2 linked regions of the Homo sapiens genome follow. The protein of the gene in region 1 purifies or fractionates together with the protein of each later gene. This does not show direct contact. Each region holds a gene or a part of one and is shown on either strand. Other genes may lie near its edges.

Evidence for each region.
Region 2: the proteins of NLRP3 (region 1) and USP50 purify together in Homo sapiens (affinity purification with western blotting; 3 studies listed by BioGRID). This does not show direct contact.

What each region holds. Positions count from the first base shown.
Region 1 is NC_000001.11:247,438,143-247,448,523, forward strand, and holds part of NLRP3 (NACHT, LRR and PYD domains-containing protein 3), read left to right. Parts: intron 1-1,138; exon of another isoform or gene 1,139-1,391; intron 1,392-5,829; coding exon 5,830-6,000; intron 6,001-6,508; coding exon 6,509-6,679; intron 6,680-9,941; exon of another isoform or gene 9,942-10,085; intron 10,086-10,262; coding exon 10,263-10,362; 3' UTR 10,363-10,381. UniProt on the Homo sapiens protein: Sensor component of the NLRP3 inflammasome, which mediates inflammasome activation in response to defects in membrane integrity, leading to secretion of inflammatory cytokines IL1B and IL18 and pyroptosis.
Region 2 is NC_000015.10:50,542,544-50,553,868, forward strand, and holds the start of USP50 (ubiquitin carboxyl-terminal hydrolase 50), read right to left. Parts: upstream 4,124-11,325; 5' UTR 3,983-4,123; coding exon 3,930-3,982; intron 2,472-3,929; exon of another isoform or gene 2,256-2,471; coding exon of another isoform or gene 2,239-2,255; coding exon 2,044-2,238; intron 1,251-2,043; coding exon 1,055-1,250; intron 1-1,054. UniProt on the Homo sapiens protein: Deubiquitinating enzyme that removes conjugated ubiquitin from specific proteins to regulate different cellular processes. Regulates the inflammasome signaling pathway by deubiquitinating 'Lys-63'-linked polyubiquitination of the PYCARD/ASC adapter protein.

The sequences.
Region 1 (10,381 bases):
ACTGAGGCATCAGCAGGCTGGGTCCTTATAGGTCGTACAGGTCCTTCCCAGTCCTTACTTTAGTTGACATCTGCTGCCTTTAATTCATTTCACTCTTCCTCTTTGGAAGCCTTCTTCGCTCTTATTTTTAGGTCACTACTTAGTCTTTCCTGCTAATGTTATAGCTTCCCCCTCCCTGGATCCTGCATTGGCTTCTCTTCCTGTGGTCTGGGGATTTCACGACTGGTTTAGTTGTGTTTTTTTTTTTTTTTTTTTTTTTGAGTTGGAGTCTTACTCTGTCACCCAGGCTAAAATGCAGTGGCGCAATCTTGGCTCACTGCAACCTCTGCCTCCCGGGTTCCAACAATTCTTCTGCCTCAGCCTTCTGAGTAGCAGGGACTACAGGTGTGCACTGCCATGCCTGGCTAATTTTTGTATTTTTAGTAGATACGGGGTTTCACCATGTTTGCCAGGCTGGTCTCGAATTTCTGACCTCAGGTGATCTGCCTGCCTTGGCCTCCCAAAGTGTTGGGATTACAGGCGTGAGCCACACACCCGCCTGGTTTACCTTTTTTGTTGTTGTTGTTACTAAATATTTCTAAACTCCCTGAGAATTCTCATATACCTCTCAATTTCAACAACAGTAGGTCTCAAACCCAGATATCATTCACAAACTTTTTATTAGAAAAGTAACACATGCTTGGTGTAAACATATCATAGTACAGACAAAGTGGAAAGTGAAAGCTCCTTCTCAGCCCTCTTCTGAGAGAGCCATTTACAATAGTCTGATGAACAACCATCCAGACTTTTTTTAATACAATAGATTGTTATATAATCCATTCATCTGTCCATCCATCCATCCATCCATCATCCATCCCTCTATTTTCCATCCGTCAATCCATCCATCCATCCATCCATCCATCCATCCATCCATCCATCAATCCATCCAAGGGAGTATCAGAGCTTTGTGAACATATATTGGTTGCTAATTATGGACAAATGGATTTCCTGTATATGCTGATCTGGGTGGTATTTATATCAGTAATGTGAATGAAGACCTATGTGATTTTCATGTTGCATTTGTAATACATTGTTATGTAGTATTTTAAATGCCTAGTCTGTTAGAGCTACTGTAATAAAGTATCACAAACAGAGCAGCTTAAACAACAGAAATTTATTGTCCCTCAGTTCTGGAGGCCAGAAGTGTGAGATTAAGATGCTAGCAGGCTGGGTCCTTCTGAGGGCTGTGGGGAATCTGTTCATGCTTCTCTTTGGCTTCTGGTGGAATGTCATCTTGCTGACACATTTTGCCATTCCTTGACCTGTAGATGCCTCTGCCACACCATTGCCTTTATCTCTACGTGGTGTCTTCCCTGTGTCTGTGTGTGTCTTTCTCCATGTCCCAAGTTTCCCTGTGAAAGAACACAAGTCATGTTAGATTTGTAACGACCTGATCTTAACTAATTACATTTTCAGTAACCGTATCACCAAATAAGGTCACAATCTGAAGTACTGGGGCCTAGGACTTCCACATATAAAGTCTTAGAGGAAACAATTCAATCCATAACACCCTATCTATTGAAACTAGAACCATAATATAAATATTTTTCTGTGATATCCTTTTTTCATTTATCATGGATAAATTTCCATGCTGATTTGTGTAGATCTATCGATTGGGGCATAATATCCCATAGTGTGCTTTACCATAATTTATTTAATCAAATCATGCATTTTGGGATAACTGTTCTTTTCCACTATTACAAACAACTCTGCAAAAAGCACATTTGTATATATAGTTTTATGCATGTGTATTTGCTTTGAGATAGGTATCTATAAGTGGCATTAATCAGTCGAGACTTTTATGCATTTTATGTGTTAGGTACAGCCATACATGTGGCTGTGTGTTAGGTATAGCCTATGGGTTAGGCATAGCCTGTGTGTTAGGTATAGCCTATGGGTTAGGTATAGCCTACGTGTTAGGTATAGCCTATGTGTTAGGTATAGCCTATGTGTTAGGTATAGCTACATTTTTTTCTCTCGAACTTTGGGTCCTCATCTCTGGCTGCATATTGTGTACTGCCTGTCTCAATACTGCTCAAGGGTCACACATGCTGAGCATTTGCAACATTGGTTTAATTATCATACCCCACCTTCCACCCCCGTTCTCTGACCTGCTCCTGCCCTCTTCCTCCTGCCTCATTGAATAGTGGGGCTTTCCAGGAGGCTGCTGAGTGAGTAAACGGGGGACGGTCCTAAATGCTCTGCTTTCGGTTCCCTCTACCACTCATCACTACACCAGAGGGAACTTTTTAAGATGCAAATTTGAAAATATTGACCCTTTGTTCAAAAATCTTCAAAAGTTCTTCTCTGCAGTCAGAGTGACATCTTAGCTTGGCACACAAGGCTGTCCCTGATACTGCCCTCTCTCCTGCCATACCTTGCACTCCATTTTGAGTCATATTGGATGAGTTTTGTTTTGCTGTTTTAGAGATGGGGACTTGCTATGATGCTCAGGCTGAATTTGAATTCCTGGGTTCATCTACAGCCATACCACCCAGAGTGCCTGATCTCATCTGCACTCCTGGGCTCAAGCAATCCTCCCGTCTCAGCCGCCCAAGTAGCTGGGACTATAGGTGGACATCACTGTGCCCAGCTATGAATTAGTTTTGAAACATCTTGGTGGTTCTTTTAATCTTCCTTATTCTTGCTACTCTTTTCCTTTTGCCTGGAAGGTTACCCCCACTTTCCCACTTTCTACTATCCATCTAAGAAGCTCCTACTTATTTTTTAATTACTGTGATCCTCATTTTGTCCATTTAAAAGCAGGGATAAAACTAACATTCCCATCTTGAGGTTGTGATCATTCAATGAGATAACCCTGTTTAAAGTCGTCATCCATGTCAAGCACACAATAAATACTCAAAAAATGTTTGATCTTCTTCTTCAGATTCCTTCCTTCCTTCCTTCCTTCTTCCTCCTCCTCCTTTCTTTCTCTCTTTTTCTTTTTCTCTTTCTTTCTTTCTTTCTCTCTCTCTCTCTTTCTTTCTTTCTCTTTCTCCCTTCCCTTCCCCTCCCCCCCCCCTTTCCCTTTCCCCTTTCCTTTCCTTATTTTCCTTTCTTTTCTTTTCTTTTTTTAAGACAGGGTTTTGCTCTGTGGCTCAGACTGGAGTGCAGTGGTAGGATCATAGCTCACTGTAGCCTTGAACTCTCCTGGGCTCAAGCAATCTTCCTGCCTCAGCCTTCTGACTAGCTAGGACTACAGGTGTGTACTACCATGCCTGGGTAATGTTTAAAATGTTTAAAATTTTTTATGTAGAGACAGGGTCTTGCTATGTTGCCCAGGCTGGTCTCAAACTCCTGGCCTCAAGTGGTCCTCCCACCTTGGCCTCCCAAAGCACTGGGATTCAGTTTTCATTATGAGACAGTTTTGTGACATAGGCAGGTAGTTAATAAATAAAAATCCCCAACCAATTAACTTAATACAGTACATGGCAAGATATCCGTGCTTGGTAAATGTAGAGCTCAGTTAGGTGGATTGGTTGAAATCGAGATGTCAATCACATTCCTCTAATCCAAGGATTGGTTGGTGGGACATGGTTGTTTGATTCTTTAAACATTTTATTATGTGTTCAGTGTAACCGTTGCTTAATAGTTACCAGCATTTTCACAATTTGGATATGACGTTTTCTTAACAAAACTGCACCGTCTGTTGCAATTTCTACTACTACTGTGTAGTGCTCCCCAAACATCTGTTGAATAATCCATTCTACTCCTTTTTGGAAATAGTGGTAAAGCCTGCATAACTTTAATTACATAATTTAAAAAATATTTTCTCTTTTCCTCTTTGAAGACCATCCCCATTCTACTAGAATGTCCCTGGCCTTTGCCAGGAATGCTACTAATCCCTTCTGCATGTTAATTAACAACAACCCTCTGATAGAATTCTTACCGGGGATGAGAGCTTAGTAGAAGCCACTCAAAACTTGCTTTGTTTTTGTCTGTCTCTCTTGGGCTTCATTTGCCTATTAGTCTTACTTACTGTGTCTTTTCAGTTTGACTCTTCCTTAATTGGGAAGATAGAAACCAGTGGATGGATAATCACTTTTTCCTGCTGGTCATCTGTTCATGCTTTACTGTCTGAATACACTTTTTCTGTATTTCTATTTTTCCTGCCTCGTAGACACCAAAGAGCTTAAAAAACATGCCATTGCCAAGGACTCTGGCAGGAAGGAGGCAATCACCTGCGCTATTCCTGGCTTCATGGAATAGAAGCATCTGTGCTCCTAGGAATTACGCCACCAGTGATTTTAGAGCTCTTATGCTCTTCCTGGGTGATAGAATGGGCTTAATTTGACTCAAGAATAGTACATCAAAACTCTTAATTCCATCGAGATTGATGCATTTTTGGGGTTTTATGCTCTAAAAGGCCTTTTGCTGTGCAGAAGGAAGAGAGAGGTGGACAGAAAGGGCAGTGGGGAGAAGATGAGACTAAAAGGTGGAAAGTCCAGGTCTGGATCCCTCCCCACCACACACCTGCTCTGTGGCCTTGAGAGAAACATGTAATTTTTATAAGCCTTAGATTTCTAATATGTAAAATGTATGTAATAGTTTTAGCTGCACTCCTTCCTTGCCAGGTTGATATAATAATCAAATAAGACTGGTCTCTGGGTCAGGCACAGTGGCTCATGCCTGTAATCCCAGCACTTTGGGAGGCCAAGGTGGGTGGATTGTCTGAGCCCAGGAGTTTAAGACTGCAGTGAGCTGTGCACTTGGCCTGGGTGACTGAGCAAGAGCCTGGCTTTTTCTATTTATTTATTTATTTTTGAGACAGAGTCTCACTTTGTTGCCCAGGTTGAAGTGCAGTGGCAATCTCGGCTCACTGCAACCTCTGCCTCCCAGGTTCAAGCAATTCTCCTGCCTCAGCCTCCCAAGTAGCTGGGATTACAGGTGCCCACCACCACCCTAACTAATTTTTATATTTTTAGTAGAGATGGGCTTTCACCATGTTGGCCAGGCTGGTTTTGAACTCCTGACCTCGTGATCCACCCTCCCAAAGTGCTGGACCTCCCAAAGTGCTGGGATTACAGGCATAAGCCACTGCACCTGGCCTTATTTATTTATTTATTTAGGCAGGGTCTCACTCTGTCACCCAGGCTAGAGTGTGGCAGCGCAATCATGGCTCACTGCAGCCTCGACTTCCTGGACTCAAGCGATCCTCCCACCTCTCCAACGTGGTTGAGGGCTGCAGCGAGAAAGATGTGAAAGGGGCATTTGGGGGCGCAGGAAGGCGGGAGGTGGCAATTGCTAAGGGCCCCGCCGTGTTCCTGTCACAGCCCTAGCTACAGCTTAGAAGGTCACAATGGACGTTCACCTGTTGTCTTTGATGTTTAAATCAGCACCGACTTCCCATGAGGAGGATTTTTTTTTCCTGTCTCTCTTAAAAAAAAAAAAAAAGGCCCCTGCAGTGTGGGTGTCTGCAGTGTTACGGGGATTATTAGTTGAGGATAACCACTGGGATGTGTTTCTGGAAGAAGTGGTGCTGAGGAGCACTCCTGGCCGGAGGAAAGCTGTGTGAGGAGGAGGAGGAGTATGGGGTAACTGGCTCAGTTTGCCTTGGCTCTTTCTGTCGGACTCATACAGCAAAGCATCTGCTGAGACATCATTTGTGTCTCCTGTGACAGCCAGAGACAGCAGGTCTTGCTCTCCCCAGATCATATCTGAGATGCTGGCTCCTGCTCTCTGAGCTGAAGGCTGCAGCTGCTGAGAGAGGACGAGGCACTGAGTCAAAGCAGCTGCACAATGTTGGGGAACAGCTGGGTACTGAGGACTCTTCTCCCTGTCCTTCTACAGGTTGGTGAATTCTGGCCTTACGTCAGTCTGTTGTTCAGCTTTGTCCTCGGTACTCAGCACTAATCAGAATCTCACGCACCTTTACCTGCGAGGCAACACTCTCGGAGACAAGGGGATCAAACTACTCTGTGAGGGACTCTTGCACCCCGACTGCAAGCTTCAGGTGTTGGAGTAAGTCCTTTGGTTTATTACAGCAATGAGAACACATGGTGGCCAAGGGTGGAGGGACGTTTAGGCAGAGTGGCCACAAGATAATCTGTATCTTAGAAGTGAGGTGTCTTCTTAGTGTTTGCCTTGTTACAGGATCATGGGACTGGGAGGAGTCCTTCCAGATGATATAGATGTAGGAACTTGAGTCCTTACCATCACAGTTTTCTGTACCACAAAACAAGGAGGGCAGTATGACACTTACATTTTATGGAAATGTAGGGAAAGGCACAGAATTTGGTAAATCAATGAACAAACCACTGTTACTAATTTGATCTGTGCAATGCAGTGGATTTGAAAAAGAGAGAGAAGAATAATTACCAGCATACAAGGCTGCTTGAAGCTAGTTAGTCCTGTGCTCCTGTGCTTTTTTTTTTTCCACCTGAAACAAGACAGGCTAAGATGCTAAAATCTTGGGGAGCTAGGGGGATGGTTAAGGGGACATTTTCTTTAAATCACCCCCTTTTTGCAGATTAGACAACTGCAACCTCACGTCACACTGCTGCTGGGATCTTTCCACACTTCTGACCTCCAGCCAGAGCCTGCGAAAGCTGAGCCTGGGCAACAATGACCTGGGCGACCTGGGGGTCATGATGTTCTGTGAAGTGCTGAAACAGCAGAGCTGCCTCCTGCAGAACCTGGGGTGAGTGTGCTCTGCAGAGATGCCCGTGGTGGGACTCTGAGTTCTCAGGAAACGTTGACTGTTATCAAAATCCAGGATGGCTCTCGCTTCATTTGCAGCCACTCAAGATTAGGTTGGGCCTGGGTCAGTTGTGGTGGATATTTTAAAATAGAGAATATGGGGTTAAACTACACATTCCACTTCACTGAGATGGTTAGAATCACCAAGGCTAAGCTGGATTTCACCCACATTCCCCAAAGAAACACAAGCCCTCATGCGATCATGGCCAAGGAGGATTCTGTTCTACACAAGGAACCGAACTTCGTAGAACTCGTCTATGGGTCATCCAAATTGGAAGGGTCTTTACATAGTGGGGATCTTGTTGTTTTGTTTCTGAGGATTTATTTTTTTTTTCCTTGAGACAGAGTCTTGCTCTGTCGCCCAGGCTGGAGTGCAGTGGCATGATCTCGGCTCACTGCAAGCTCCGCCTCCCGGGTTCACGCCATTCTCCTGCCTCGGCCTCCCAAGTAGCTGGGACCACAGGCGCCTGCCACCACACCCGGCTAATTTTTTGTATTTTTAGTAGAGTTGGGGTTTCACTGTGTTAGCCAGGATGGTCTCCATCTCCTGACCTCGTGATCTGCCTGCCTCGGCCTCCCCAAGTGCTGGGATTACAGGTGTGAGCCTCCGTGCCTGGCGGTTTCTGAGGATTTCTAAATGGGAAAAGAGTGCTCCAGGAATAGCAAGATGGGAAATTACACGAAATTCGACAGTGTGTCAGGATATTGCCAGCCCACCTCTGTGATACTACTGAGGTAGTCGTCTCCTCTCTAGCAAGAGCTTCCTGGCGAGTCCCACGGTTCTGTCAGCCGTGATGATTGCACTTTTCCCTGAAGACGTTTTCACTGCTTGGCTTTAAGGCCAACATGCTCTCCTGGGTTTTCTCCTATTTCATCAGATCCTTCTACTCAGTCTCCTTTCTGGCCTCTTCTTCATCATCCTGACCCTTATGTGTTGAATCCTCAGAGCTTAGTCGCTGGGCTAATTTTTCTTCCCTACACTTTCTCCCTCATTTAAATTATCTGGTCTTCTGGCTTCATGATATGTGTGCTGTGGCCTCCAGATTATATGTCCATAAATTCTGTGTCTCCGTGCTTGGCTGATCTTTCTTCTTGAAGGTTTAATAAACCTCTCAAACGTCACATCTAGATCCACACCCTTGCTACTCTCTTCTACCCGAAACCTGATTCTTCCCCATTTCAGTCGATGGTCACTTCCTCCAAGTTGCTCGGGCCAAAACATTTCTGGTTCTGTCGTCACTGTCTCTTTTTCCTTATAATCATGTCCAATGTGTCAGCACATCCTGTGAGCTCTGCCTTCCCAGCTTGGCCACTCCCTGACCACTTCAGGCCAGCTTCACGGCTTCTTCCTTGGCTCAAGCCACCATCACCTGGTGTCTGGATTGTCATGGTGGCATTCTGACAGGTCACCCTGCATCTGTTATTCTGATTTTAGCAGACAAGGGATTCAGCTAAAACGTAACTCGCATCATATCACTCTTGTCAACATCGTCTTCTTATCACTTTCATAATCAGAGCAACAAACTCATGGTGGCTTCCATGCCCCACATAATCCAGCCTCTCCTGCTTCCGAAGATTCCGCTTCTCCCAACCCTTGCTTATTCTGCCCCAGTACAGTGATCTCCTTGCTGTTTTGCAAGAACACTGTCATCTCTGGATTTTTGCACTTGCTTTTCTTCTGGCCTAGAACTCTCTCCCCTTCAGTATCCACCTGCATTATTCCCTGTACCTTCCTAAATTCTCTGCTTAAAGGTCTTCTCTGCGAGGCTGTCTTTGACTATTCTACTGAAAATAGAAGCACTTTTTCTTCTCTTCTCATTCTCCTCTGCAGTGTAGCACATCTTATGTGCTATGTCATTTTCTTGTTTATTTATTATCTATCTCTGCTCCCAAAATATAAATTCCATTAGTCCAGGGACTTCTGTCCATATTAATGATCTCAAGGCTGAGAACTTGTTGGAATGCAGGTTTGAATAAATACAAGTTTGAATCAGCCTTGCATCCTTGTGCCAACATAATGGAGCACATTTGCTGCAGGACAAGCCAATATTCCCAGAGCTAAGAGAGATGGGGGAACAAACAAAGGATTGGTCAGGTCAAAGCTGGGGACACTGCTACATGTAGCATCACTGACCTAGCCCTGAGGGACATTCTGGACCCAGGCTGAGGGACAGGCTCAAAATAGATTGAAGAATCCATGAATGCAATCAACCCGTTTTCTCAGGCTGCGATAACAAGCTGCTTTAGACTGTGTGACTCAAACACAGATTTATTATCTCACAATACTGGAGGCTAGAAAGTCCAAAATCAAGTCTCTGATGAATTTGGTTGCTGGCGAGAGTCCTCTTCCTGATTTGCAGATGGCTACCTTCTTGTTATGTGATTGCATGGAGGGAGGGGAGGCAAGGGAGAGAAGACAGGGGAGAAAGAACAAACTCTCTGATATCTCTCCTGTAAGGGCACTCACCCCATACTGAGGGCCCCACCCTCACAACTTCATCTAACTCTAACTACTTCCCAAGGGCCTCACCTTTAAGTACCGTACATTAGGGGTTCGGGCTTCATCATGGGAATTGTTAAGGAAGACAAACATTCAGTATATAACACCACCAAATTGAGATGGTTATAAATGGTGCAGGACAAATGGGTGGATTTATTAGTTAAGTTGCAAGGGAAACTTTATTAAAGAGGAGGAAGAACTTACATCGAAGATGTGAGAGGCATCCTGGGCAAATGCAATGTGTAGAATTGATCAGGTTAGTGACTAAATGAACATAAGGTAAAAAAATTTACAAGACAGTTGAGGAAGCGTAAATGCTGACTGGACATACAGTGATACTAAGAAATTATTGTTAAACGATTTTGGTGTGATAGTGACATTGTAATTATATTTTAGTGTCACAAAGTGAATTATTGATAGATGCATTAAATGCAGTATTTAAAATAATCCATGGGTGGGAGGAGTGGGTGGGCAATAGAAGAAACAAGTTGACATGACCTGTTTAATTGTCGAACTTGGGTAATGGACACAGGGGGTTCATTATACTATTTTCTATACTTTTATGTATGCTTAACATTTTCCCAACTAGATAGTTAAAAATATAACAGGAACCACATTGGGCACTTAGAGCTTTTTTTTTTTTTTCCCCACATTTTTATTGGGAGCCGTGGGAGGGGCCTCCTCTGTCATTGGAGGTGCTCACAGTTTCTTCAGCCACTCCAGGCTGGGGTCCTGGGGGTCTGAGGCTCCCAGTGACGAAGGACACGACGAGCACCGGCTCCTTGGCCCAGGCATTCTTGAAGAAGGTGCGGAGTCTCGCGGCCATCTTGGTCTCGGCGGCGGCGACGGCGGCGAGGACGCGGAGCACTCTGGGAGTTGTGGTCCCTCTTTTTTTTTTTTTTTTTTTTTTACATTTTAGAAGTGTGTGGAGTTTAGGGAAATGAAGAGATGAGACTTTTAAGGTTAACGACTCTGACAGAGTTATCTGAAGAGTGCAACCCAGGCTTTCTATTTGCTTTTACAGGTTGTCTGAAATGTATTTCAATTATGAGACAAAAAGTGCGTTAGAAACACTTCAAGAAGAAAAGCCTGAGCTGACCGTCGTCTTTGAGCCTTCTTGGTAGGAGTGGAAACGGGGCTGCC
Region 2 (11,325 bases), on another chromosome or scaffold:
AGTGGCATGATCTCGGCTCACTGCAACCTCCGCCTCCTGAGTTTAAGCGATTCTTGTGCCTCAGCCACCCGAGTAGCTGGGACTGCAGGCTCCTGCCACCACGCCTGGCTGATTTTTGTATTTTTAGTAGAGACGGGGTTTCACCGTGTTAGCCAGGATGGTCTTGAACTCCTGACCTCAAGTGATCCACCCACCTCAGCCTCCTAAAGTGCTAGGATTACAGACGCGAACCACAGCGCCTGGCCATGAGTACTTTTTTATTACTCTAAATGAAAAATGGAACTGAGATCTGCCAATGAGAACAATTAATAGCTATAGTTTGCAACCTTTATGCTAACCATTCCCTGGGTATTAGAGGTGCAGTGAGGTAATGTTAGCAGAAGGATGTTGCATAAAGTCAAGGACACATTTTCAGAGAATGTGGGTCTCAGACCAAGGCTAAGGGCAGTGAGTTTTGTAAATAAAGGCAAAACCTCTAGAGTAACTGATGATTTCATGTTTAATGAAATGTATGTCCTAATTCGGTGATGAACTCAGGTTAGGTATGTTTGGTATGAGGATGAAACTTTGTAGTGCGTAGATCTGTTGCTTAATCTAATATCAAGCTTAATATTTTCATGGATTTGTAGGTCCCAAGAAAATTTAAGCTATAAAGTTCTATATGTTATTTCTCATGAGGAATATATTTTGCACTTTTAAAAACTAGTCCATTCAGCCTCTATTTACAAAGAAAAGTAGATTAGTGTTTCCAAAGCCTAGCTGACCACTGGAAATGCCAAGTAAGCTTTCCCAAAAGACATTCTAATTAATTACCCTTGGAGTATTTGCCTTAAAATCTGTGTTGTAAAATCTTCCCAGATGATTCTGATGACAAGTAAGTTTGGTAAATACAGCTACACATTCAAATACTAACTTGGATGTTCTCCATGGGACACCTAGCACAGTGCTTGGCACAAAGTAGACAATATTAATTGAACAAGTAAAAGAATGAAAAATGGAAGCTGCTGATAAAGGTTCAGGACTATCCTATTTCAAGGTCATTAACTCTACTTACCTTTTTTAGAGCTTCATGAAGTTCATTTAGGACACAAATCAAGAATTCCTGAGCATCTTGTTGCATCTTTTTCGTAAATGCTGGGTAGAGGTTGCCAAGAGCTGACCAGAATATTTCTGGTGAGACACAGTCTGAGTCTCCCAGCCACATGTCTGTCATCAGATAGGCAAAAGCAGTGGCAACTTCACTGCAATCGCTTGGAAGAAGAAAGGGATATGTTTCTGGCTGATTTAATGAAAAGAAGGCACCTAATCACCCAAGCCTAGGAAATTAGTCTCAAAATGGAAGAACGTGGTGTCTCATGCCTGTAACCCCAGCACTTTGGGAGGCCAATGCAGGAGGATAGCTTGAGCCCCCAGAAGGTCGAGGCTGCAGTGAGCTGTGATCATACCACTACTTCACCCCAGCTTGGGTGACAGAACAAGACTGTCTAAAAGAAAAAAAAGGATGCCAGGCTCAGTGGCTCACACCTGTAATGCCAGCACTTTGGGGGGCCGAGGTGGTAGGTTGGGAGGGGTGGATCACTTGAGGCCAGGAGCTCAAGACCAGCCTGGCCAACATGGTGAAACCCCGTCTCTACTAAAAATACAAAAAATTACAAAAATACAAAAAAAATTAGCCAGGCATGGTGGCGCGTGCCTGTAATCCCAGCTACTCAGGAGGCTGAGGCAGGAGGGTCACTTGAACCCGAGGAACAGAGGTTGCAGGGAGCCAAGATCGCACCACTGCACTCCAGCCTGGGCAACAGAACGAGACCCTGGCTCAACAACAACAATAAAAAAAAATAAAAAATAAAAAAAAAAGGAGCTGCATTCATTTCTTGGTTGCCCTTCCCACTTTTACTTACTCTAGCGTGTTATCTGGGAAGCTACAACCTCTACTGACTTGTTTGTTTATCTCTTAATAGGGATTCCAGAGTTCCTTCTCTAACCTCATCTGTGGGGAAGTGGGGGTGGGGGCTGGGCTGCAGGGAATGCAAATGGTCTTACTTTTGCAGAGCGGTGATATACTTCCCGGTGAGAAAGTATTCCACCAGCGGCAAGATGCTGCAGAGACACTGTGAGATGGCATTCACGCAGCATGTGTTGCCCAAGTTCCACAAGCCAGTGACACCCTGAAAATGGGGCTGGTTCCCATCAGCCTCCTTAACTGGAAGGGTATCATAGTAATCTGTGCACTCTGCACTGTGTTGGTGCCACATGGGAAGAAAGGGTTTTGAGAGAACAAAATATGTACAAATGACAATAAGCTTCTCTTAATATTATGAAATAAAGAAGAGTTCTTAATAAGACTTCCTCCAAACACATTCCCTACCAAGGACAGGAAGTATTGGAACTTGGAGTCTAAAATTGTATTATGGCAGAGCATAGTGGCTCACACCTGTAATCCCAGCCCTTTGGGAGGCCGAGGTGGGAGGATTGCTTGAGGCCAGGAGTTTGAGACCAGCCAGGGTAACATAGTGAGATCTTGTCTCTATTACATAAATAAATTAAATTAAAAACAAAATTACATAACTTAGACCAGAACTGTGAACAAGTACCTGAAGCCAAATAAGACAGATAAAAATTTCCTTCTAAAACTAAAGCAAGACAACTGACAACTTGCTGGGCAAGTAATTAAATTATTATTATTATTATTAATAGTTAATAAAACAATAGCTATCAGGTAGTGAGCCTGGCACTATTTAAGTACTTAACATGCATTTTCCCATTAAATCTTTCAACAATTGTGTAAGGCAGGAACGATTATTTTTACATCCCATTTTACAGATGAGATGTCAGGTTTAAATGATGTAGTCATTTACTCATGGGGTGTGTGGTGGTATGTAAAAAAAGGAATATCCACCTATCTGTTTACCTCCCTCCCTCTCTCCCAACATACCTATCCATTAAGATATTTGGATTTACATATATTAAGATTGTCTATATATATTAAGATTGTCTCTATATATGTGATATATATGTATATATTTGTATATATATGTATGTATGGCATATATATTGAAGGCATAATATATGCACATTAAGAGCATGAATATATATATCTTAAGAGCACACATATGTGTATATGTGTATGTATATAGCTATATACATATAAACACACACACACACATATACACGGAGAGGAGAAAGAGCACAGACTTTGTAAAAATATAGATCTTAGTTTAAATCCCAACTATGCCGTTTATTAATTATAGGATCTGGGATTCTATGTCCGTTTCTCATCTATAAAATAGGAATAATATCATCTGCCTGATAGGATGGTTGTGAGGATTATGCAGGTATCATGCAAGCTACTTGACACAGGTTCGTCTAAATGACAACTGAAAAATTTTTTTAAGTGATTGATCTAGGATGTCCTTCCCAGTAAGCTACAGGATTAGAGTGTTCATGTGAATTGCCCAGACCTGCCTGCACAGAGAGAACACTGAGGGTTCCAAACGGGACCTCCTCTCCCTGCACAGAGCTTCCTCTTACAATTTTTTGTATTGTGCCAGGCAGCCTGGTATCTATGTCCTCTCGGATTTTTCTTTCCATATATTGTATCTAAAGTTGGGGCTCCATGAGACAGTGACCTTACCTCATACATACTTTTAAGTACAGTTATGCCAGTTTGAAAAGTGTTCACTGTTATAAGCATGGTCATTTTCACTTTTACTCACTGATACCACAGGAGGTCCTAGACTGTCACCCTTTAGGAAGGACATGTATTTATTGCCAAGATATTAGGTACAATCTTCCTTCCTTTCCGGGGACCTTCCATGGGTCACACCTGGGAGAACCCTCCTGAATGCAGTGTGTGTCCCCTGACTCCTCTGAGCTTGACTTTCCCACCACTGGGCTAATCTAGAAAGCTGTAGTAGATCAAGGCTCACAGGACGTGGTAGATATCGAAGTCATCTGCAGGGAGAGACGGCTGAGAAGTCATTTTAATGGAACCACGTTGGACTTTTGCTTCTATTCAGGAGCTACATCTATTCCTTTCAACTTCATTTCTCTGAGCCTGTTAACGCTGGCTTTTTGTTTTAAACAATTGATATGCTCCTCTCTCTTCCAGTAGCTGCGAACTGATTTTCACCTGTATCAGGCACCACTCCAACTTGGATTTTCCGTACATCATAATCCTTTCCATTCACCTTCAAGATTCTATCATGTTGCCATGAGACACTGTTACTGGGTTGTCTGAAATGTTTTAGAAAGATTAGGCTCCAGAGAATGAACTACACATATAACCTCTCTTCCTTCTTCCATCACTCAGTTTCTCTTGTGTATATATATATTACACATACACACACACACACTTAACATGTGCACAAAAATTTACCGCCACTGAGTTAGTGGACACTACGGCAACCCTGCCTGCTCTGGGCACTCATTCCCCCTTCCCAGCGACTACACCACACCTAGGAGCCCTGAGGGAATTTCCTCACCCCGGGGAGCGAGGATTTCCACTTCTATTCAGGAGCTAGATCTATCCGGACTGAATACCGGATCAGAAAAAAAAAATTGCCATAAAAGAACATTATGGGAACGATTGATGAAATTTGAATATGGATAATATGCAGATAGTTTTTTCTATTAATGTTGAATCTTCTGAATTTGATAAGATTGTACTGTGTTTATGCAAGGGGATGCCCTTGTTCTTAGAAAATACACACTGAAGTTTTTCGGGGCACAGGGGCATGATATATGCAACCTATTTTCAAACGGTTCAGGAAGCACACAGGGACAGGAGGACAGGAAGGAAGGGGACTGATAAAGCACATACTATAAAGCCAGTGCACCCACACGCCAGCAGTTGGTGATTCCGAGTGAAGGCCCACTAAAGAGCACTATTCTTGCAACTCTTCTGCAAGTTTAAAAAATTAAAAAGAGGCCGGGCGCATCGGCTCACGCCTGTAATCCCAGCACTTTGGGAGGCTGAGGCGGGAGGATCACGAGGTCAGGAGACAGAGACCATCCTGGCTAACACGGTGAAACCCCATCTCTACTAAAAATACAATTAACTGGGCGTGGTGGCGGGCGCCTGTAGTCCCAGCTACTCGGGAAACTGAGGCAGAAGAATGACGTGAACCCGGGAGGCGGAGCTTGCCGTGAGCCGAGATCGCGCCACTGCACTCCAGCCTGGGCAACAAAGCGAAGACTCGGTCTCAAAAAAAGAAAAAAAAAATTAAAAAGAAAGAATATATTACACATATTTTTTGCTAAAATGGATTTCTCTCCAGATATATGACTGGTAAGTCAAAAAAAGCAAGGTGTTGAGGAATCCATAGTATGCACCCCAACTTATGTCTAAATGGTTAAAAAAAACCCACATATATGCTCAGGCTACACGAAGATATTTAGAATATTCATTCTTTGACACCTGGATAAGGAATCCTGGCAAGTAGAGCTGTCCTCTCTTGCAGGTATTTGATATTTGCGATGTATTTACAGAGGTATCTCTCCAAGTCACCTCAGTGGTGGTTCTGCAGGACTTAAATCCTGTAAACTTGCTCTATTTGTCAGTGAGGCTCTCCCAAGTCCTTCATTTTCTCCTAATCAATAGGGTCTTTTAAAAGTTTCATTTTGTGTTTGATGCTGGTAGGTAAAAATACAATTATTTGTCATATGTTGGTTGTCTATCCAGGAACCTTTCTAACCTGACTTACTCTTTAATTTTTTAATTTTTATTTAAATAGAGACAGGGTCTCGCTATGTTGCCCAGGCTGGTCTCGAACTCATGGGCTCAAGCAATCCTCCCACCTCACCCTCCCAAAGTGCTAGGATTACAGATGTGAGCCCCTGAGTATGGCCTAACTTGACTTACTTAAGTCTAATTTTTACATAGGTTCTTTGGATTTTTTATAAACACATTCAAGTTGTCTGCAACAAAATCAGTTTAATTTTTTTCTGAGTCTTACTTCTTCTTTACTAGTGAGGACTGCCAGTAAAATAGTGAAAATAGTGAAAAATTGTGAACATAGTAAAATAGTGAATAGAAGTGGAGATAGCTAATTGCTTAACTCAGAGAGAAAGCTTTGGATAATTCACCATTAAGTATGATGTTTGCAGACATAGTATTGAAGAGTTGTAATCATGAATGGATAGTGAGTATGACCAGATTTCTCTGTATTTATTGAGGTAATCATGAGATTTTCTTTCTTATTCTGTTATTGTTGTTCATTATCAATGATGGTCACATATTAATCTTCTATTCCTCAGGTATATTTTGTTTGAGCTGTAGTTATTATTTTCGTGAATTGTTGGGTTCTAGTTGTTAATCTTTTTGTTCAAGGGTTTTGTATCTATGTTCATGAGTTAGATTATCTATGTGTTAATATTCTGTGCTCTATAACAAACTACTAAGCTTAGTTTAAAACCAGACATGGGGCTGGGTGTGGTGGCTCATGCCTGTAATCCCAGCACTTGGGGAGGCCGAGGTAGGAGAATCGCTTGAGTCCAGGAATTCAAGACCAGTTTGGGCAACACAGTGAGAATATCCCCCACCCCCACCCCCATTCCCCCCCACCCCACTCTCCACCCTCCGTCTACCAAAAAAAATAATAATAATAATTAGCCGGGCATGGTGGTGTATGACTGTAGTTCCAGCTACTCAGGAAGCCAAGGTGGAAGGATCACTTGAGCCCAGGACGTCATGCTTGCAGTGAGCTGTGATTGTGCCATTGCACTCCAGCCTGGGTGACAGAGACCCTGTCTCAAAAAGAACCCCAAAAGCCAGGAGTGGTGGCTTACACTTGCAATCCCAGCGTTTTGGGAGGCTGAGGCGGGTAGATCACTTGAGGCCAGGAGTTAGAGACCAGCCTGGCCAACATGGCGAAACCCTGTCTCTACTAAAAATACAAAAAGAATAGCTGGGCATGGTGGCACGGGCCTGTAATCCTAGCTACTCTGGAATCTGAGGCACGAGAATCCCTTGAACCTGGGAGGCGGAAATTGCAGTGAGTCAAGATCATGCCACTGCCCTCTAGCCTGGGCAATAGAACAAGACTGTCTCAAAACAAAACAAAACAAAACTCAAAAAGGAAAACCAGATATAGTTTAGCTGGGATCTCACATTGCATTTAGTTTTCATGTCCCTTTTAGGCTCCTTCAACCTGAAACGGTTCTATGTATTTCCTTGATTTTCATGAACTTGACTTTTGAAGATTACTGACCAATTATTGTGAAGAATATCCCTTAATTTCTATTCAGGAGCTACATCTATCCGGACTGAATCCCAGATCAGAAAAAAAAAATTGCCATAAAAGAACATTAGGGGAACTATGTTCTCTGATGTTTCCTCATTAGATTCACATTATGCATTTTTATGAAGAATATCACAGAAGTGAAGCTATATTCTTATTGCATTGTATTAAATGTTATACAATTTTGATTTGTCCCAGCACTGGTTATGTGAACTGTGATTAACTGTGATAACTTGAATGAGGTAGGGTCTCCCAGGTTTCTCCAATGTAGTTTTTCCTTTTGTAATCATCAGGAAGCATTTTGCAGGGAGGACTTTGAGACTGTGTAAATGGTCTGTTCCTCATCAAACTTTCATACATTAGTTTTAGTAATTGATGTTTCTTGGCTGGATTTTTGCTATGGTGATTGCCAAGTGGTGATTTTCTAATATCATTATTCTGACTACATTCATCTGTTGGTACTCGACTATAAAGAGAAGTTTCTCCATTTCTTTTTTTTTTTTTTGTGACAGGGTCTCACTGTCCCCCAGGTTGGAGTGCAGTGGCACAATCTCAGCTTCCTGCAACCTCCACTTCCCAGGCTTAAGCGATTCTCCAGCTTCAGCCTCCTGTGTAGCTGGGACTACAGGTGCACGCCACCAATGCCTGGATAATTTTTGTAATTTTTGTAGAGACAGGGTTTTGCCACGTTGCCCACGCTGGTCTTGAACTCCTGAGCTCGAAGCAATCCACCTTGGCCTCCCAAAGTGTTGGGATTACAGGCGTGAGCCACCGCACCTGGCTGTCTCCATTTATTCTTTTATTTTAATCAGCATGGACTCACAAATTCCCGTTTTGTTCAATGGATTACATCTGATATTTTATTTATTTATTTTTAAATTATACTTTAAGTTCTGGGATACATGTGCAGAACGTGCAGGTTACATAGGTATATGTGTGCCATGGTGGTTTGCTGCACCCATGCTATCCTTCCTCTAGCTCCCCACTCCCTGACAGGCCCCGGTGTGTGATGTTCTCCTCCCTGTGTCCATGTGTTCTCATTGTTCAACTCCTGCTTATGAGTGAGAACATGTGGTATTTGGTTTTCTGTTCTTCTGTTTGCTGAGAATGATGGTTTCCAGCTTCATCCATGTCCCTGCAAAGGACATGAACTCATCCTTTATGGGTGCGCATCTGATATTTTCATGTTTTTTTGTGTGTGTGTTTTTTGAGACAGGGTCTCGCTTTGTTGCTCACTGGAGTGCAATGGCATGATCTCGGCTCACTGCAGCCTCAATTTCTTGGGATCAAGCAATCCTTCTGCCTCAGCCTCCTGAGTAGTTGGGACTACATCACATGCCACGAAGCCCAGCTATTTTTAAATTTTGTTGTAGAGACGGGGGTTTCACTATGTTGCCCCGGCTGGTCTTGAGCTCTTGGTCTCAAGCTCAACCACTTTGCCCTCTTAAAGTGCTGGGATTATAGGTGTGAGCCACCGCACCTGGCCATGATTTATTTTAGATGTTCAAATGGTCTCAAGATTAGCCTGCAGGAAGCCCTTCAAGATGTCTTCTGTATCCATTTGACATGTCCTTATTGTTCTTTGAGCACTTCCTTTGTTTGGCACAGCAAGATCTTCTAGAGTACCATTCCTGCCCCAATCCTGAAGTCAGGTGTTTCTCCGAGCCCTGGTTCCTTTTAGTGAAGAATGGTATTTAGAAACCAAGATCTGGGAGCTGGGTATACTCATGTTATTACAGCGTTGCTGCTTCCAGGTCCTCTATGCATACATACATCCACATCCATAGGTATATCTCTCTACATTTTTTTTTCAGTATTACTACCATACTGAATACATCTTGATATTTTGGGAACCATGAATTCATGCCAGTAATTCCAATTCCAAACCTACATTTCAGGATTTATTCTAGTTTCCTCCCTTTTACATATTTACAACCCCATCTCCAACAGAGAGGCACTTCCCATTGTCCTCAATGTATTTCCTTATTTGATCAACCCCTCTGCATATAACTAATCTCCTGTCGCTGCTGACATCAACCCCACTCCCCTCTTTACACAACACACAAGCACTATCCTCACCCTGCTTTGCTGACACCCCCCACCAGGTCACTGTTGCCTCCCAACATGAACACCTATGATTGGTCTGAAACCTAATGGATTTTAGACTAAATTATGAATGAATGAGGATGAAAGGGACCTGGGGCCTGGTCTTCCTGTTAGTGTGTGTGTGTTTTTGAGACAGCATCTTGCCATGTTGTTAGGCACATCCTGAACTCCCAGGCTCAAATTATCCTACTGCCTCAGCCTCCCAAGTAGCTGGGATTATAGGCGTAAGCCACCACTCCTGGCCCTAGTGGATTACTTTGTAAAAATCCTCTCCTTCCCCTCCAACTTTTTTATTTCCTTCTAATGGCCAAGAAGTGTATTGTTTCTATATTCTATTTATTTCCTTTAAATATTAAAAAAAAAATAAAAGTAACCTGTTACCTTAATCTATTTGGGTCTAAGGTTTGAATAGCAAAGAATACTGTTTTATCCCAACCTATTTGGTTTCTAAACTCTGGATGCCACGAGTCTGTGTGAAAATGTACGTTAATCTATGTAGTTCCTGAGCTCACATAGTGAAAGTGAAGATAGCAAGGGTTACCCGTATTTAGAATTACCTTTCAATGTCAAAAATAACCATAATTTTTCCCAAATAGAAACGAAACCTTTAATGTGCTTTTACTATCTTCCCCTGAATCACTTTCAATATTTTAAAAAATCTCATTCTAGTTTACATTTTTCAAAAAACATTTGTGACCAGATGCAGTGGCTAGCACTGGTAATCCCAGCACTTTGTGAGGCTGAGGCACTGAGGATTGCTTGAAGTCAGTTCAAGACCAGCCTGGGTAACACAGTGAGACCTCATCTCTAAAATAACAAACAAACAAAAATAAATAAATTAAATAAAAGTAAAATAAATAAAACAAAAAAAATTTGTCAGTAAGCATTTAAATTTGTGTATTTCATACACCATTGTTTACTTCTGTGCCTCTTTTTACGTTGTGTCTTCTTAGATTCTTTTTCTTTGAAGATATCCTTAACATTTTCCAAGAAAAAGCATGGGAAGTAGACTTTCTGCGAGCGCCATCACCTGACTGGATTCAACTTTCTCCCTCTTTCCCCTAACAACATTGTTTTGCTGCCTCTTAGATACAGGAGATAAGAATTTTTTTTTTTTTTTTTTTTTTTTTTGAGACAGGGTCTCACTCCGTCACCCAGGGTGGAGTGCAGCGGCACAAACACGGCTTACTGCAAACTCTGCCTCCCAGGCTCAAGCAATCCTCCTACCTCAGCCTCCAGAGCAGCTGGGACTACAGGTGTGTGCCACCACGCCTCGCTAATTTTTTTTTTGGTAGAGACAAGGTGTCACTATGTTGCCCAGGCTGGTCTCGAACTCCTGGGCTTAAGCGAACCTCCCACCTCAGCCTCCCAAAGTACTGGAATTACAGGTGTGAGCCACCACGCCTGGCCTACCATGTGAGAATTTTGATGTCAATCTGTTCCCTGTAAACTTTTTCTTTCTTTACTTGCAGAATCACAAAACGTGGCATTTAGTGGGTTATTTCCTTCCTTCTAGCGTTTTTATTCTAGAACCTTTATTAAACAGTTATTGTGGCCGGTCATGGTGGCTCACACCTGCAATCTCAACACTTTGGGAGGCCAAGGTGGGTATATTGCTTGAGCCCAGGAGTTTGAGACCAGCCTGGGCAACAAAATGAAACCCCATCACTACAGAAAAATAGAAAAATATCAGCTGGGTGTGGTGGTGCGCGCCTGTGGTCCCAGCTATTTGGGAGGCTCAAGCTTGAGCCTGGGAAGCGGAGATTGCAGTGAGCCAAGATCACACCACGGCACTCCAGCCTGGGCGAGAGTGAGACCCTGTCTCAAAACAAAACAAAAACCCCCAAAACACAAAAAGCTATGGTATCTCATTTATTAATCCAGAAAACGTGTATTTACTTTGTGCCAGTCATCATGCTAGGGGTATAATACTGAAAAAAATACTAGTATTCACTCTCATATAGCTTACAAACTACTG